Regions from separate parts of the Homo sapiens genome. Here region 1 is linked to region 2. The links come from fine-mapping of genetic effects on gene expression. A gene starts in region 2. The other region holds a variant in brackets. All regions are shown on one strand. Distances are between the middles of the regions. Region 1 has its middle 53 kb from the start of IL1R1. Region 2 holds the start of IL1R1 (interleukin 1 receptor type 1).

Region 1 (4,000 bases), 53 kb after region 2:
TAAGTTATTACATATCAAAAACCTTCTATTCAGCCATTAAAAAGTAATGATTTTATGTCATTTGCAGCAACATGAATGGAACTGGAAGTCATTACATTAAGTGGAACAAGGCAGACACAGAAAGACAAATTTTGCATGTTCTTATTCTGTATAGGAGCTTAAAAAGTTAATCCCATGAAGGTAGAGAGAAGAATAATAGATAGTAGAGGCTGGGAAGGCTGTGTGGGTAAAAGACGGGGATAAAGAGAGCTTGGTCAATGGGTAAAAACATACAGTTAGATAGAAAGCATATGTTCTATTGGAGAGCAAGGTAGGGTGACTATAGTAAGCAACAGTGTATTGTCTATTTCAAAGTAGTTACAAGAGAGAACTTGAAATATTCCCAACGTATAAAAATGGTAAATACTCAAGATGGCAGATACTCCACATACTCTGACTTGATCATTACACATTCTATGAATGCAACAAAATATCACATGTACCCCATAAATATATAAAATAGTATGTATAATTTTCAGAAAGAAGAAAAGGATACATTATCCATGAAGCTGCCTTGTTAATTTCCACTTTCTCAAGACTATAAAATCCACTTCCACTTTATCAAGATTACAAAATCAGCTTTCAAAGGATAATGGCCAATAAAGTGAATGTATTTTAGAAACTACTGTGAACCATAAAGAGGCAATGTTTGTCAAGTACATACACTCATAGGCTATCCAAGATGCTGTTAAAGATTGATAGATTAAAAGAAAGAAAGAAAAAAAACTACTAGAAGAAGCCCTGCCTCAAGCACATAACCTGTTTTCCATCAAAACATTTGCCAGATTTTTCATCTCTATGAGACTGATCACTTGAGAGCTGGGCTGTGAATCTCTGGAGGGTATATCTGGTTCTCCCACAATTTTTTTGGAACTAAGGCAACAGAGACTCACAAGGCTCTCTATGAAAAGCCCAGAAAAGTCTCAATTGAGAAACACAAGTAAACCAAGTTCTAATGTGTTTTACTAAAATGGAAAATTCTGGTTGGACTGAGTTTACCAATACCTCATTGCATCTACTGAACAGAAAAGAAGAAACTCCCTGATCATTAATAACATTAGCCGAAGCCTCTATTGTCCTCTCATACACATTGTTTGGCAAAATTAAAAATTTACCACAGAGACGAGAAAATATGGCTAATAATTAAGAGAAAAAAGCAGAATATGGAAGCAGCTCACATGTAATCAAGAAATTATAGTTAGCAAACTAAGACTGTAAATAACTGTGATTAATACCCTCAAGAAGATGCAGAAAAACATGAACTAAACAGGTAAAAGGATAAAAAATACCAACAATGGATTGAAATCTATAAAAAGGAATCTAATAGACAATCTAGAACTGAAAAATATAATAGCTGAAGTGAAAATTCAGCTGATGGGTTAACAGCTGATTAAACACAGCAGACCACAGGTTTTGCAAATGTGGAGGTAGTTTAACAGAAAATATCAAAACCAATGCATAGAGAGAAAAATAATAAAAAGAGCGTAAGAGATATGCATGATATACTCAAGAAGTCTAACATATGTATAATTAATCTTAGAAGAAGACAGAAAGAGCAAATCAGAAGCAACAGTTGAAGAGATAGTGGCCAAACGTTTTTCAAAACTGGTGAACCACATTTTCATGGGGCTTAGCAAATTCCAAGTTGGTGGGAAAATAATATTTGATCTGATTGACTTATTTGTTATTACATACCCCCAACATAGAACCTTTGTGGGGATTTAGGTTCCTGCACCCAAAACTCCCCATGGTAGGTGGTGGTGGTGATGAGGAGGGGACAAAGGACTAGAAGGCCAAATTACAAAAAAAAAAAAAAAATTGAAAAAAAAAGGATAGGCTGGGCGCAGTGGCTCATGCCTGTAATCCTAGCCCTTTGGGAGGCTGAGGCAGGCGGATCATGAGGTCAGGAGATCGAGACCATCCTGGCTAACATGGTGAAACCCTGTCTCTACTAAAAATACAAAAAAATTAGCCGGGTGTGGTGGCGGGCACCTGTAGTCCCAGCTACTCAGGAGGCTGAGGCAGGAGAATGGCGTGAACCCGGGAGGTGGAGCTTGCAGTGAGCCGAGATCGTACCACTGCACTCCAGCCTGAGCAACAGAGTGAGACTCTGTCTCAAAAAAAAAAAAAAAA[AG/G]ATAAACCAAAGATAACTACACCTTGACCCATCATAATAAAACTCTTGAATACCACAGACAAAATAGCAACAATTTAAAAGCAGTCAGAGAAACAAAGGCATTCAGAGGAAGACTTACAACTGCCTCCTTGATAGAAACAGTGAAAACTAGAAGACAACGAGGTACAAACAGACCTCATTTTATTTCACTTTGCTTTATTGTACCTCACAGATACTGTGGGGGTTTTTGTTTTGTTTTACAAATTGAAGGTTTGTGGCAACCATGCATCTGGCTCTATCAGCTCCATTTTTCCAACAGCATGTGGTAACTTCATATCTCTGTGTCACATTTTGGTAATTCCCACACTATTTCAAACTTTATTATTATTATATGTTATGGTGATCTGCAATCAGCAATATCTGATGTTACTATCGTAATTGTTTTGAGGTGACACAAACCACACTCATAAGACAGAAAAGTTAATAAATGTGTTCTGACTGTCCCACAGACCAGCTACTCCCCCATCTCTCTGTCTCCTTCCTATTCTCTGAGATGCAACAATATTGAAATTAGGTCAATTAATAGCCCTACAAAGACCTCTAAGCATTCAAAGAAGAGTCACAATTCTCTCACTTTAATAAAAACAAGAAATGATGAAGCTTAGGCATGTTGAAAGCCAAGATGGGATGAAAGCTAGGCCTCTTGCACCAGATGGTTAGAAAAGTTGTGAGTGCAAAGTAAAAATACTTGAAGGACATTAAAAGTGCTACTCCAGTGAACACACAAATGATCAGAAAGCAAAACAGCCTTATTGTTGATATGGAGAAAGTTTCAGTAGTGTCAATAATAGATCAAAACAGACCCAACATTCTCTTAATCCAAAGCCTAACACAGAGCAAGGCCCTAACTCTTCAATTTTAGGAAGGCTGAGAGAGGTGAGAAACCTGCAGAAGAAAAGTTGGAAGCTAGCAGAGGTTGGTTCATGAGGTTGAAGGAAAGACGCCATCTCCATAACACAAAAGTGCAAGATGAAGCAGCTAGTGTTAATGTAGAAGCTGCAGCAAGTTACACATATCTAGGTAAGATCATTGATGAAGGTGGCTACACTAAACAACAGATTTGCAATGTAGACAAAACAGCCTTCTGTTGGAAGAAAATGCCATCTAGGACTTTTATAGTGGAGAAAAGAAGTCAACGTCTGGTTTTGAAGCTTCAAGGGACAAGCTGACTTTCTTATTAGGAGCTAATAAAGCTGGTGACTTTAAGTTGACGCCAACGTCCATTTCTCATTTCAAAACTTAGGCTACATCTACTCTACCTATGCGCTATAAACTTAACAACAAAGCCTGAATGACAGCACATCTGTTTACAGCATGGTTTACTGAATATTTTAAGCCCACTGTTGAGAGCTAGTTCTCAGGGGAAAAAAAAAAAGATTCCTGTAAAAATATCACTGTTCATTGGCAAGGGAACTGGTCATCCAAGGGCTCTGATGAAGATGTAAAAAGAGATTAATGTTTTTTCATGCCTGCTAACACAATTTCCATTGGATCAAGAGGTAATTTTGACTTTCAATTCTTATTATTTAAGAAATACATTTTGTAAGGCTATAGGTGCCATAGATAGTGATTTTTCTGATGGAACTGGAAAAGTAAATGGAAAACTTTCTGGAAAGGATTCACCATTCTAGATGTCATTAAGAACATTCATGGTTAATGAGAGGAGGTCAACATATCAACATTAACAGGAGTTTAGAAGTTGACTCCAACCCTCGTGGATGACTTTAAGGGGTTCAAGACTTCAGTAGAGGAAGTAACTGCAGATGTGGTGAAAATAGCAAGAGAACT
Region 2 (4,000 bases):
ACAGAGTGTAGCTCCACCTCCTAGAGCTCCACATCCTAGGAACTGAGGCAAGGGACACCACAAACTTGGAGAATAGCAGCCCTGCGATTCTCTAGGGAACCACAGAGCTACATCTGTGCCCATCATCTCCTCGTCCTCTCCATTGGGGCTGCTGAGTGGTGTCCTCTAGGTAGCCAGTGCATCCACACCCTTGTACAAAGGGGCGGATTTCAAAGACCCCCCTTTTGAAGAGAGACTGCTGACATCCTATGTCTTACCAAGAAGACTCATGTCCATAAGGGGACAGAGGTTTTCACTTGTCGTATTCACCGCTGTCTCCCCACCACTCACCACAGTGCCTGGCACATAGTAGATAGTCAATAAATCTTTAATAAATTAGTGAATCTACTATTAAGCAGTGTTTCAACAATGGTGAGAGGTTGACTCAAAAGATGTCACAGGTTTCAGAACCATAAAAAAAAAACTTGATGTCACATTATGACATACAAGCAGGGCCTATTAGAAATGGGGGTGCTGCTCTGGGCCTGCCAAGGTCATGTGAGAATTCAGATCAAATATCCTTTCCTGAACAGCATGGAGGCCACATGAGAGTGGACGGGTGCAGGAGACGCTTCACACACAGCAGCTTGGCAGCTAGCCAGAGACTGAAAATAAATCAGAGTTCCACACCCCTGCCCCAGCAAACCCCATTCTCAAAGGCTCTACCTTTCTGTCTAGCATAAACGTTAACATCGGATATGAATACAGAATATTAAATGAAATATCAAATGAGATATCACACAATAAATTAGAAGGGATTGAGAAAGAAAACAATGCCAATAGCCGCTTGGTAAACTGGATGGCAAAAAGGACAGTGAACGTCCCCATGCCACCTCTGGCTTTCCTCAGCTCATCAATAGTCATGGAGTTCTGTTTCATACATTCAATGTCCAGAAGCCTGGCACCAAACCGCAGCGACTGAGACATCCATCACATTCCCGTGACGAATGGACCCTTGCTCCATGACCTCAAGAGCCCAAGTTCATGGTGTCCCTTGCCTCAGTTCCTAGAATGTAAAGCTAAATCACAGGAATGTGGCCATCTGAGAAGCTACCCTGCCCCAAAGATAAGGCAGTGGAGAGACAGCCCAGCAGGAGCCAGCATCTGCGTGCCTTCCCAGCGGCCTTCCTTCCTCCCGGCAGTGCAGAGGAGAAAGCCCTGGCAGGCAGGACGAGTGGGAGGGAAGACAGAGGGGGGCTGCATGCAGAGGTCTTACCCTCCTTCAGGACATCATCCTCCAACAAGTTGGTCACCTAAACTTCTGCTTCCCCCGCTGTAAAACAGGGGTGATGACAGCACCCTCCTCACAAGACTGTAGGGAGGGTAAAAGACCAGTTGCTGTCAAGGGCTTATAAACTGTAAAGTGCTGGGCATGACTGTTGTAAATAATGAGTGTCTTCTCAGCGCCTACTTGCTTGTAGCTACATTCCCTAGCACCATCCTTTATCTGGAGGGGCAACAAGTTACCCTCCCCAGTGTGGTTAAGGCCTCAGCCCTTACCTTGTTAAGGAGACTGACGGTCCTGAGCCTAACCTCTAAGAGGGACGCTCCTGAACCTGTAGAACGTAGCCGGATAGAAAACCTGAAAGCCATTCACACGGGAAGTCACACACCTACCTAGAACCCCCCTCCAGAACAACTGGCAAGTTCCTTCAAACGACCTGAACAACGTTAACTCTTGCTCCACACAAGAAACACACACACGCAGACCTCACCGCCATCCCCTTCTTACACAACACACTCTGACAACCAAGTGCAACTTAGGGAGGACGCTCACGGCGTCCTGCAGAGCGGGGGACTCGAAGGTGTCAAGGCTGTGGTCCGTCTCACCCCTACCTAGTCCCCGGATGCTCCAGCTTCCCCGTACCTGGACGGACGGCCGTGGAGGGTGATGGGATCCCAGCCCCGGGCGGAACCCGGCTCAGCTCAGAGGGGCGAGAGCCCTAGGAGCCGAGCGAGGAGTGCTTCGGTGCGCGGGCGCGCGATTGTCACATTCCTGCCGCTCCCTGGGGCGCGCGGGGCAGGCCGGCGCCCCCACCGCCCGGCCCGGCCGCTCTCCGGCTCCTCCCGGCCGGCGCCGCGCGCTCCGAGTCGGCTCCGGCCGCCGGCCACAAGCTGCGCCCGCCCTCGCGGCCGGGAACTGCCGGGCGCGGCTCTGGCTCTAGCCCCGCCGCTGCGGGGGCGGGGAACGGGCGGAGACGGCTCGGCTGGGCCAGTCCGCGGGCTGCGAGCGAGCTGGCCGGGTGTCCCAACTCTCCACCCGGAGGAGCAGGCGCGGCTGGACAGACCCCTGCGGACACCGCCCTGCCCCGGGTAGCCCGCAGGGGTCCCGCCGGTTCCAAAGCATTGGAGAGCTGCCGGGCGCTCTCGAGTCGCGGCCCGGCTCCTCCAGGGCTGCGGCGGCTCCACTAGAGTTAGTTGAGACAACTCACCTAGCCACTACGACCTGGCTCTACTACCCCCATGGAGCCTGGCTGCGACCCGCGAATTGAGTTGGCGACTCCAGGGCATCAGATCCCGAAGCAAACGCTCGCCAGAGCGACCTCTGGAGCTTGGTGCCTGGCCAGGGGCTCTCTCCGACTGGCTTTGTGCACTAATTTCTTTGTACCTCCGTTTCCTCTTCTGTGAAAAAGGGATCATAAGAGCACTCATCTCATGGAGTGGTTGAAAACAGTTTTTTAAAAAAAATGAGCTAATACATATAAAATAGTGCCAGGCCCAGAGCTGATACTACTCACGCGTTATCTGCTGGTTTCATTGTTGCTGTTACGCGCCCGGATGAAAAAAGCAATTTAAGTGTCATACTATAAAATCTTGATACCACACTTGGGGGCAGACAGGGTTTTTAAATTTTTAAACTTAAAACCCACTTATGCCCACCAGCTCACTTTGCCAATGAGAATTCACACCCAGGGGAATGGAAGGATGGCCAAGGTCATGCAGCGAACGAACGCCTGGCAGGATCACACCTTGGGCTCCTTGCAGGGAGAGGAGGGGAGGGCGCAGTGGTCGAGTCTGCAGCTCCCTCGGGCTTTCCCCCTCCACTTCGCTAGTCTTCAGCAAGTGACTGGCCCCTCCAGCTTGTTTGGAGGTCTTCATGGGCCATCCTCCAAGAAGAGTTTTAATAAATGATGATAGCTTCCTTCCTTCTAGTACACACCGCCCCTTCCTGCATCCCTTTCAGACTGGGCAGGCTCTTGTTCTCGTAACCCACCCCTGGATATGCCTCTTCAGAAACTCAAGAATTGAGGTAACCTGAGCCTCAGCTGCCCCCGGACAAATCCAGGCTGGAGGAAAAGATGAAGGAATGAGCAGCAGAAGCTCATCTGCCCTAAAAGCTGTCTTGCAACCTGGCATGATGACAATTTCTCATTCTTAAACAATCTGTTTCCAGAAGCTTTTATGGTTCCTTTTCCTCGAGAAAGCAGGCTTACATCAGAGGCCAGTGACGTAGCATTAAGAGAATTCCTTAACAATCCCAGCTCTCAATATTCCTTTATACAGCAGAAGGTCTCACAGCCTTGACTCCACTCAGAATCACCGGAGGACATGACACTCCTGTGTTCAGATCAGTCACGTCAGAGTCTCTGGGGCTGAGGCCCAAAAGGCAGTGTTTTTAAAGCTCCCAGGTAATTCCAGTGCAGCTGGGGTTGCAAGCAGTTGTTCCTCTAAGCTCCCACAGTGATGCCATTACTGTGAATCCTCCAACTGAAGGCTGCTTCAACCACGTGTCCAAATGGCAGTTCTGAAAGCTACAGCAGGTGGGCCTGGCTCCATGCTGTGGAACCAGCCCAGAAGCACTATGATGGTGAACATAAATTCGTCCTTCCATTTTCATAATGAAGGTTTTTAAGCAGTTTACAAGTAGAAAGTGAAATTGATTTGTGCAACCATGTAGAAATAAAATCCGTAATTTTTGTCTTTTTTAAGTGTTGTCCCCGTTCAGCCACTCCTACCCAGT

What was found. PIP is the estimated chance that this variant, and not a neighbour inherited with it, causes the effect. A credible set is the group of variants that fine-mapping cannot tell apart.
Region 1: its variant is the best candidate, but not a certain one, in a credible set for the expression of IL1R1 in whole blood (INTERVAL, PIP 0.87).

The regions. Positions count from the first base shown.
Region 1 is chr2:102,088,008-102,092,007 of GRCh38, reverse strand. It overlaps a transcript of IL1R1 not described here. Among named protein-coding and RNA genes, the nearest start is that of IL1R1, 53 kb to the left of the region's middle. The variant AG/G (reference allele first, on the strand shown) is at 2,173.
Region 2 is chr2:102,140,927-102,144,926 of GRCh38, reverse strand. It overlaps IL1R1 (interleukin 1 receptor type 1), which reads right to left and starts at 2,181. Exons shown (of 12, transcript NM_000877.4): 1 at 1,907-2,181. RefSeq lists enhancers at 964-1,258, 1,024-1,318.